2 separate regions of the Homo sapiens genome follow, and region 1 is linked to region 2. The links come from fine-mapping of genetic effects on gene expression. Tissue or cell type: whole blood. Region 2 holds a variant in brackets; the other region holds the start of a gene. All regions are shown on one strand. Distances are from middle to middle.

Region 1 (5,254 bases), 94 kb before region 2:
TAAACCCAGGAGTTTTTGAGACCAGCCTGCACAACACGGGCAGACTGTCTACAAAAAATTTAAAAATTAGCCAGGCGTAGTGGTGCGCTCTTGTAGTCTCATCTACTAGGGGGGCTGAGACAGGAGAATCGCTTGAATCCGGGAGATTGAGGCTATAGTGAGTTAGGATTGCACCACTGCACTCCAGCCTGGATGACAGCAAGACCCTGTCTCAAAAAACAAAAACAAAAACACGTAGGGCTGAAACAGAGAGGCCTCCAGCTTATTTCCAAGCTTGGGGAAGTTTCAGAACTCACCACCTTGGGCTAGCAGGGAGAGGGCGGGTCCAACATCAGAACCCAGGTTCACCTCCCCAGCACTGTCAAAGCGCAGAGCAGGCCTGACTCCAGGAATGAGGTTCCCCCTTCCACAGCCTGAGGATGGATGGGGTCTGAGCACAGGTAATGAACCTGTTTTTAAGGCAGCCTAGGCATCCACTTGCCACCCGGTTTAGGGAGGAGCCAGGACCCGAGCTAGTGGGTGGGGCCAGAACACCAAGAGGGGCCTATTAGGGGAGAGGGCGGAGCCAGCCGGAGCTGGGTCAGCCTGGGCTGGGCATAGCCGGCTGAGGCCAGAGCTCAAAAGCCACTGGCTTTACGGCTCACTCAAGGGGCAGGGCTTCAACAGGCCTAGGCCTGGGCCTGGTCCTTGTGAGATTGCAGGGAGAGGGCGGGGTTTGACTGGGCGAGGGAGGAGCCAGAGTGAGTGAAGAAGTGGGCCCAAGAGAGGTCCCGGGTCGCACCTGCGCAAACAGCGAGGCCTGCTCCCGAGAGTGGCCGAAGGGGTCAATGTGCCAGGCCACACGGGGTCGCCCATCATTGCCAAATGTGTCCTCCAGAAAGCGCAGCCCAAGTGTCATCTGGTCCACGATGGCACCGTAGTGGGTGGCTGCCTCATCGTTCATCACCCAGCCACCATTGGCGAACTCCAGGCGCCCTGTGCCAGGACAGGCAAGGTCAGGGTCAGCGGTCAGAGCCAGGAGTGGGAGTAGGGTGGGTGATACTGGGAATGTGAAAGCCTGCCTGTGTACACATTTCTGGCGGAAGGACAAGAGGGGTCGCTCCCAGGCCATAGTTCCCAGATATGGGAAAGAGGCCCCCTGCATGGCAGGCTTCCCAGAGGATGCACAGCAGGTGGGGCTTTGTGGGATGTATAGGAGGTCTCCAAATGGAGAGTCCAGGCAGGCGGAGCGACACGCATGTTATACAGCTTGCACGTGGCATGACAAATCTCAGAAACCAGAGATGCAGAAGCAGAAGCTGGGCTGGGCTTCCTCTTTTCACTTCCTTGGGGTAGGCTCACCCTGGCGCACAAGGTCTCGCACGACTTCCTGTGTGGCATTTGTCTGCTGGTGCCACCAACGGGAGAAGAAGGCAATCTCCACGTAAATGAAGCGACGGGTGGGATCTGCCAGCAAGGCAGAGATGACCGAGTCCAGGATGTACTGCACACCGGCGTGCTGGATGTCATTCTTGACTGTGGATAACAGGGATAAGGCTCTCAGGGAACAGCAGAGCCAAGGGGGTTATTCCTAGACAGAGGAGCCCAAACCCTGGATATTAGGGTAGCACTGGCCCCACCCTAATGTCCAGGACCCAGAGGGATTACAGGGACCATGGGGATCCCAGGGACCAGTCCCCATCCTCTACTCACTTCCATAAAAGTACTGGTCCACGGTTTTGAGCCAGCCCACGTCATCATGTGTGTGAGGCAGCAGGTGCACGTTCAGCATGTTCGGCTGCACTGTGGGGCATGTCTGCACAGGGACCCCAAACACACATACCTTGTCAATAACCCCCGAGGTCGGGGGCTGCAGAGTAAGTCTTGATCTAGAGGTGAGTGACTCAGAGAGGCCTGATCTCGCCTATGTGCAGAGGAGGCCAGGCCCTCCCAGGCAGGACACACACATACATAGTTGTGCTCATAGATACAACTCCACTTTGCACAACCCCACAGGGCAGCTCTCATTCACACTCCGGGAAAATAATAATAGAAGTAGCTGATGTTTGTTCAGCATTTGCCGACAGCAGACGGCCACCGTGGGAGGTGGGGTGATGTTATCCCCAGTTTCCAGATGAAGGCACTGAGGCTTAGAGAGGATAGGTGACTTGCCCAACGTCACACACTCAGGAAGTGTAAGAGCTAGGCTGGAATTTCAGGCAGACTCCAGAGTCCCAGCTCTCAGCCAGCACCTCCCCCCACACATACACTGCTCACCCCCTGCCACCTCCTGCCCCTCCAATCCCACAGTTAAGTGCAGACAAAGTCTAGGCAAGCATCCCGGAGACACGGAGGCAGGTACAATCAGACACAGTCCTATACTCAGATGCGCACAGCCAGACCTCGCAATGACACAAAGCACGCACTCAGACCACACTGTCATATCATCAGCCATTCACTAGACACCCACAGGACAGACCCACCCACACCTCTAGACTGTATTCTGGGTTTCACTCTGCCTCCTGTACGTTTCAGCTCGGAGGCCCCACTCACCTCGTATCCCCCGGCCCGAGCACCGGCAGCCGCCAGCAACAAAAGGAAAAAGCAGAGAGGCGGGAGCGGTGGCCGCAGGGCGCGGGACATGGTCCAGGGGCCTGCTGAGTCCAGGCAGCCGCGAGCGCAGACCCCCGAAGCCCGCGCGTAGGCGCCCATGGCTCAGCAGCTTCCTCCTGGGGTTCCCCGGCCCTGGAAAGGCCGGGCAAACGCCCCGCCCCCAGACCCGGCCGGGCCAATCGGGGTGGGGGGCGGGGCCAGGGCGCGGTCTGGAGGCTCACGGGAGAGAGGCTGTAGCCCTGGGCAATCCCGGGGGTCGTTACAGGAAGGTAGGAAAATGCCACCCTCAGGGCACTGGTTGGGCTAAAGGTGACACTGGCGTCTCACGGGCTATGAAGACGGAATGCCTCTTAATGCCGGAATTCCAAGACGGAATGCCTCTTAATGCCGGTAGGAGCAGAAGTGCTTTTCCTAAGGGGGCCGGGTTTTCCTAGCCGGTGTAGTGTGTCCATGGGAATCCAGGGTGTCCGTCCCATGGACCTTCAGCGCTAGGGTCCTGGAAGGACCTAGCTTGCCTAAGAGGAGGATCTGATGAAGAGTCCTATACTGTGGGGATTGGGACGTTGGGTAAATACCCCTGGAGTACCAGGGATGGGATCCAGCCTGGTTGAGAAGGATCCCTGGGTGTTCCGGAGAGAAAAGAGGGTCTGACAAGTGGGGAAGGACCCCGAGTCTTTCATGCCTTTCCCAATTCCTACCAGTTCATTCTCTGATAAGAAAACAAAGCCCAGGGCAGGCGCAGTGGCTCAAGCCTGCAATCCCAGCACTTTGGGAGGGCCAGGCTGGTGAATCACTTGGGCCTGGGAGTTTGAGACCAGCCTGGGCAACATGGGTTGTTTTGTAGAGACGGGTTTGAAAACACAAAATTTGTAATTTTACACAAAATGTAAAAATACAAAAATTAGCTGGGCATGGTGGCACATGCCTGTAATCCCAGCTACTTGGGAGACTGAGGCAGGAGAATCACTTGAACCTGGGAGGCGGAGGTTGCAGTGAGCCGAGATCAAGATCATGCCATTGCCCTCCAGCCTGGGCAACAAGAGCAAAACTCTGTCTCAAAAAAAACAAGAATTAACTGGGCATGGTAGCACGCATTTGTGGTCCCAGTTACGTGGCAGGCTGAGGTGGGAGGATTGCTTGAGCCCAGGAGTTTGAGGCTGCAGTGAACATAGATTGTGCCACTGCACTCAGCCTGCATGACAGATCAAGACCATTTTCTTTCTTAAAAAGGAAAAAAAAAAAAGGAAACCAAAGCCTAGATTATCTAGGTCAGCAGGGCCATCTGGTGAGTTGCCAGAGGGCAGAAGTCACTGTCTTGTCCCTAGCACCTGACTTAAGACACAAGGTTTATGAAGTAAGCAAATGAACAGCCAGAAGCCTCCAGACTGGGGCCCCACACCAGGCCTATGGGGCTAGAGCCCTTCCCGCCAGGTAGGAGGAACACCCCACTGAACAGAAGAGGCTGACAGCCAGAGTGAAAAACTTTATTAACAACAGGTTTCAACGAGAAAGCAAATGAATACCCCTAGAAACATGGACAGCATCTCCCCCAGCAGCAGGCAGGGGAAGGGAGGCAGGAGGGGTAAGCCTAGGGTGTTCCCTAGGAAAGGGCCAGGTTCCCTCTATCCAGCTGGGGGCACCGAGACGGCCTCATTCAGGGAAGTCCAGGATGGCAGCTGAAGGCAGCAGGTTTAGCAGCCAAAGCCCAGGCCTAGTGGATAGACAGGGTCCAAAATGTGACCCTTCTAGGCTGGTATCACCATGGGGGCGTCATGGGCTGAGGATTCTGCAGATAGGACATCACCACGGCAGAGATGGACAGCCTGAGACAGGAGAGAGGTGTCAGTCTAGGATGGCCAGGCTGGGGTCCCCCCACCCCTTACTCAAGAGTCACTTGTTCTGTAGGGCAAGTCTCACATGAAGCTACTCATCATTTGCTTCGTGTCCTCCGAGCTCCGAGAGTTGGCAAAGCTGATGAAGGAGCAGTAGACAGCGACCCAAGCACACCACTTCAGCTAGGGAAAGGTAAGTGGGTGGGCAGGTTAGTGAAAGGCACAACAATGAGTCCCCGAAGCCACCTTTCCAGACACCAGATCATGCCCACTGATTCCATCTGATGCAGCTGGGACCTTGCCCCACCCGGAATTCCTCAGTCCCACCTGCTCATGGCATACTCTAGATACGTGGTTTCTAGTCCTACTGTCTGGCCTGCGTCTCTCAGGACCAAGAGAGACTCTGACATCCCACATGCTTAAGACCCTGCCCTTTTTCCACAACTCCTCTCCAAGTTGCTTCAAAGCCTGGCCCCACTCGCAGACCAATCTGCCACATCCCCAACCTGACTCGAATCCTTGACTTCACCAAAGACTGGGGCTTTCTCGGCCCAGCGTCATCGCAGCCCCACTCCCGGCCGATCTCAGGTCCCGCCCCATCAGCAATGACAAGACACCCCGCTTCATTCCAAACCCGCCCCCGGGCCTCGTTCTCAGGTCCAACTACACCCATAGAAGCTCAACCCCGCCCACCTTAAGCATGAGGCCGCACATGCTGAAGATCATGCCCAGCAGGTTCATGTAGTCCGGCGTCGGGTCGTCCAAGGCCGGGTTACATTCGCTCGGCGGGGGCTTGTACCTGCGACAGGCTCGAGGGTCAGGGGCGCTCA
Region 2 (5,018 bases):
CGCATGTGTTTGGCGCTGTGCTAGGGGCGGGAGTTCTTCCAGACTCTTGGACCAGCCCGCCCTGACCACCAGCTCTACTTCCCAACCCCCACTGCCTGAGAGGTCTCTATCAGTGTCCTGCCTGAATTCTTTCCTTCAAGTGAAGATGTGACTGACTACCTCCTCGAGTTGTCATGAGGATGAAAGAATGGCATTAAAGCATTTGGTATACAGTAGGTGCTCAATAAATTGCTAGTGATTTTTACTCAAACGTTGTTAGTCTGATTTCTCCTGCCAGACATTATCCATTGTCCTAAGTAAAATTTGGGAGTTCTTGCAGGTTCTTTTTTTTTTTTTTTTTTTTGAGACGGAGTCTCTCTCTGTTGCCCAGCCTGGAGTGCAATGGTGTGATTTCTGCTCACTGCAACCTCTGCCTCCCAGGCCCAAGCAATTCTCCTGCCTTAGCCTCCCAAGTATCTGGGATTACAGGCACGCACCACCACACCCAGCTAACTTTTTTTAATTTTTAGTAGAGAGGGGGGTTTCACCATGTTGGCCAGGCTGGTTTCGAACTCTTGACTTCAGGTGATCCACCCACCTCTGCCCCCCAGAGTGCTGGGATTACAGGCGTGAGCCACCAAGCCCTGCTGCAGGTTTCTTCTTTCTTCTTCTTCCTTCTCCTCCTTCTCGTCTTCCTCCTCCTCCACCACAACCACCAGGCCCAGCTTATTCTAGGTTTTTTTTTTTCCTTTGAGACAGAGTCTCACTTCATCACCCAGGCTGGAGTGCAGTGCCACGATCTTGGGTCACTGCAACCTCCACCTCCCTGGTTCAAGGGATTCTTGTGCCTCAGTCCCCCAAGTAACTGGAATTACAGGTGCGCACCACCACACCTGGCTAATTTTTTGTATTTTTAGTAGAGACGGGGTTTCACCTCTTCCAGGTTTTATGATGGTGCCCTGCTTAATTCTTCCCAAACTCTGCTGTCTGAAACACCCACATCAGTGCCCTGGCATTACTCATTAATGAGCCAGCCACTGTCCCAGGATCATGGGTTCTTCTTGCCTCAAGCCTCTGCATTCTCAGGCCCTCAGGGCTTCAGGTTTTACTAATTTAATATCACACGGACTCCTGATGACTCCTGAATATAAAAGTCCAGCCAAGGCAGTGAGCTCTGGTCATGCCACTGCACTCCAGCCTGGGCAACACAGTGAGACCCTGTCTCAAAAAAAAAAAAAAAAAGAGGCCTGGTGCTGCAGTGGGGCTCACACCTGTAATCCCAGCTGGGAGGTGGAGATGGGTGGATCATTTGAGGTCAGGAGCTGGAGACAGGCCTGGCCAACATGGTGAAAGCCCGTCTCTACTAAAAATACAAAAATTAGCCAGGCGAGGTGGTGGGCACCTATAATCTCAGCTACTCAGAGGTTGAAGCAGGAGAATCGCTTGAACCTGAGAGATGGAGGTTGCAGTGAGATTGTGCCACTGCACTCAAGCCTGGGTGGCAACAGAGTGAGACCCCATCTGAAAAAGAAAAAGGAAGAAAAAGAAATCCAGCCAGGATCCCTTCTCTAACTGTAGACCCAGAAAGCCAACTGCCTCTTGGATGCCTCCTTGCAGAGATGTCACAGACACTTCAAACATAACACACTTGAAATCCAGCTCCTAATCAGCCCCCCAATCTGCCCCACCCTGTGTGTTAGCTTTGTCCTTCCAGGTGATAAGGCCAAAAGAAGTCATGTGGATTCCTATTCCCGCCACAGGCCATCACATCAACCCAGTGGCCACACCAACCCAGCAGCAAATCTTATCAGCTTTGCCTTTATTTTTATTTTATTTATTTATTTGTTTTTGAGACGGAGTTTCGCTCTTGTTGCCCAGGCTGGAGCGCAATGGCGCGATCTCGGCTCACTGCAACCTCCACCTCCCAGGTTCAAGCAATTCTCCTGCCTCAGCCTCCCGAGTAGCTGAGATTACAGGCATGCACCACTACGCCCGGCTAATTTTGTATTTTTAGTAGAGACGGGGTTTCTCCATGTTGGGGCTGGTCTCGAACTCCTGACCTCAGGTGATCCGCCCGCCTCAGCCTCCCAAAGTGCTGGGATTACAGGCGTGAGCCAC[C/T]GCGCCCGGCCGAGATTTGCCTTTATTTTTATTTTATTTTTGAGACGGAATTTAACTCTTGTCACCAGGCTGGATTGCAATGGCATGATCTTGGCTCACTGCAACCTTCGCCTCCCGGGTTCAAGTGATTCTCCTGCCTCAGCCTCCCAGGTAGCTTGGATTACAGGCGCCCACTACACCCAGCTAATTTTTGTATTTTTAGTAGAGACAGGGTTTCACCATGTTGGCCAGCCAAAGTGCTGGGATCACAGGCGTGAGCCACCGTGCCCTGCCAGCTTTGCCTTTAAATCGTATCTAGAATCCAACCATTTCTCACTCCTCCAGGACCCCAGCCTGGCCAGAGCCCTCACTATCACCCACCCACCCACCTGGACTACCAACCAGGTCTTCAAGCTCTGGCCCTGGCCTCCTAAGCCTGTTTCTCCCAGAGTGGCCACCAGAGGGCGCCTATGAACACCCGAGCCAGGTCACATCCCTCCTTTGCTTAGACTCTTCCGTGGCTCCCACAGCACTTAGAATAAAAGTTAAAGTATTCTCTGCAGCCCACAAGTCCCTGAATAATCTCCCCACCCTCATCTGCTTTCTTTTTCTTTTTCTTTTTTTTTGAGACAGAGTCTCGCTGTATCGCCCAGGCTGGAGTGCCAGTGGAGCCATCTCGGCTCACTGCAAGCAAGCTCCGCCTCCCGGGTTCACGCCATTCTCCTGCCTCAGCCTCCCGAGTAGCTGGGACCACAGGCACCCGCCACCACGCCTGGCTAATTTTTTTGTATTTTTATTTTTATTTATTATTATTATTTTTTTGAGACGGAGTTTTGCTCTTGTTGCCCAGGCTGGAGTGCAATGGCATGATCTCAGCTCACCACAACCTCCGCCTCCCAGATTCATGCGATTCTTGTGCCTCAGCCTCCAGAGTGACTGGGATTACAGGCGTATGCCACCACATCCGGCTAATTTTGTATTTTTTTTTTAGTAGAGACGGCGTTTCTCCATGTTGGTCAGGCTGGTCTCAAACTTCTGACCTCACGTGATCCGCCCGTCTCAGCCTCCCAAAGTGCTGTGATTACAGGCGTGAGCCACTGTGCCCGGCCGCATTTTTTTGTATTTTTAGTAGTGACGGGTTTCACCGTGTTAGCCAGGATGGTCTCGATCTCCTGACCTCGTGATCTGCCTGCCTCTGCCTCCCAAACTGCTGTGATTACAGGCGTGAGCCACTGCACCCGGCCTTCTGCTTTCCTTTTATTTTTTGAGATGGAGTCTTGCTCTATCGCCCAGGCTGGAGTGCAGTGACACAATCTCGGCTCGCTGCAACCTCCGCCTCCCGGGTTCATTCTCCTGCCTCAGCCTCCCGAGTAGCTGGGACTACAGGCACCTGCCACCACGCCCGGCTAATTTTTTTGTATTTTTAGTAGAGACAGGGTTTCACCATGTTAGCCAGGATGGTCTCAATCTCCTGACCTTGTGATCCGCCAGCCTCAGCCTCCTAAAGTGCTGGGATTACAGGCATGAGCGTGAGCCACCACGCCCGGCCTTCTGCTTTCTTATTCACTCCACTCCAGCCACTCTGGTCCCCTTACTGTCCCTCCAGCACACCAAGCGAGGTGTCATCTCAGGGCCTTTGTGCAAACTGTTCTGCCTGGATCTTCCCCAGGTACTTACATGGCCTCTCCCTCACCTCCTTCAGGTATCTGCTTCAATAATGTCACTTCCTTGGTGAGGCCTCCTTTCTGGGCCTTTTTATTCTTTTTTTTTTTCGATGGGGTCTCACTCTTGTTGCCCAGGCTGCAGCAAGCTATGATTGTTCCACAGTGGTGGCTCACTCTGGTAACTCTGGGCACCAAGGTGAGGGAGATAAAGTGGGCCAGGGTTTAGCCCACTGCTTTTAAGAAAAGCTTAGTGGCCAGGCGTGGTGGCTCACTCCTGTAACCCCAGCACTTTAGGAGGCTGAGGTGGGCGGATCATCTGAGGTCAGGAGTTCAAGAACACCCTGGCCAACATGGTGAAACCCCGTCTCTACTAACAATGCAAAAATTAGCCAGTCGTGGTGGCATGCGCAGGTGGTCCCAGCTACTCAGGAGGCTGAAGCAGGAAAATCCCTTGAACCCAGGAGGCAGAGGCTGCAGTGAGCCAAGATCGTGCCACTGCACTCCAGCCTGGGCGACAGAGTGAGACTCCATCTCAAAAAAAAAAAAAAAAAAAAGCAACAACAACCAAAAAACAAAACCACCACACATTCACAGACACACAAACGTGATCCTCACCTACCTCTGGTTGGTGCTATTGGTCACTCACATTTTAGTAAGAATGCAAGCCAAGCTTTTCTTTCTTTTTCTTTTTGAGATGGAGTCTTGCTCTGTTGTCCAGGCTGGAGTGCAATGGCATGATCTCAGCTCACTACAACCTCTGTTTCCCAGGTTCAAGCGATTCTCCCACCTCAGCCTCCCGAGTAGCTGGGATTACAGGCATGTACCACCATGCCCTGCTAATTTTTGTATTTTTAGTAGAGGAGGGGTTTTGCCATGTTGGCCAGGCTGGTCTCAAACTCCTGACCTCAGGTGATCCACCCGCCTCAGCCTCCCAAAGTGCTGGGGTTACAGGCGTGAGCCACCGTACCTGGCCGCTAAGCTTTTCTTAAAAGCAATGGGCTAAGCCTCTGGCCCACTTTCTCTCCCTCACCTTGGTGCCCAGAGCACAGCCAGGGCAGATTGAACGCCTTTATTTTTCTCAAATATAAAATCAGAGTCTCCTGAGGCAGCACATGAACTCCAGAGAGAGAATCAACAACAAGAATCACATTGCTAAAAAGAACAGGCCTATATCTACCTCCCGCCCTCCCTCCCCACCAATCTGGGAGAGGGAAGAGCAGAGATCATGGCCTCAAAGCTCTCGAGCACCTGGCTGAAGCCCAGTGCTGGGCGCCATGT

What was found. PIP is the estimated chance that this variant, and not a neighbour inherited with it, causes the effect.
Region 1: WDR83 starts here. The variant in region 2 is fine-mapped to the expression of WDR83 in whole blood (TOPMed, PIP above 0.99).

Annotation. Positions count from the first base shown.
Region 1 is chr19:12,664,011-12,669,264 of GRCh38, forward strand. WDR83 (WD repeat domain 83) reads left to right here and starts at 2,797. Exons shown (of 11, transcript NM_001099737.3): 1 at 2,797-2,982; 2 at 4,498-4,617. MAN2B1 (mannosidase alpha class 2B member 1) reads right to left here and starts at 2,732. Exons shown (of 24, transcript NM_000528.4): 1 at 2,533-2,732; 2 at 1,693-1,795; 3 at 1,342-1,515; 4 at 782-975. The coding sequence starts at 2,691. It overlaps WDR83OS (WD repeat domain 83 opposite strand), which reads right to left. Exons shown (of 4, transcript NM_016145.4): 2 at 5,118-5,223; 3 at 4,510-4,607; 4 at 4,063-4,415. The coding sequence ends at 4,349. RefSeq lists enhancers at 402-1,350, 1,175-1,224, 1,351-2,298, 1,365-1,414, 1,955-2,004 and 2 more and a silencer at 2,595-2,874.
Region 2 is chr19:12,758,209-12,763,226 of GRCh38, forward strand. It overlaps BEST2 (bestrophin 2), which reads left to right. Exons shown (of 10, transcript NM_017682.3): 10 at 1-250. It overlaps HOOK2 (hook microtubule tethering protein 2), which reads right to left. Exons shown (of 23, transcript NM_013312.3): 23 at 4,795-5,018. Among named protein-coding and RNA genes, the nearest start is that of BEST2, 8.9 kb to the left of the region's middle. The variant C/T (reference allele first, on the strand shown) is at 2,098.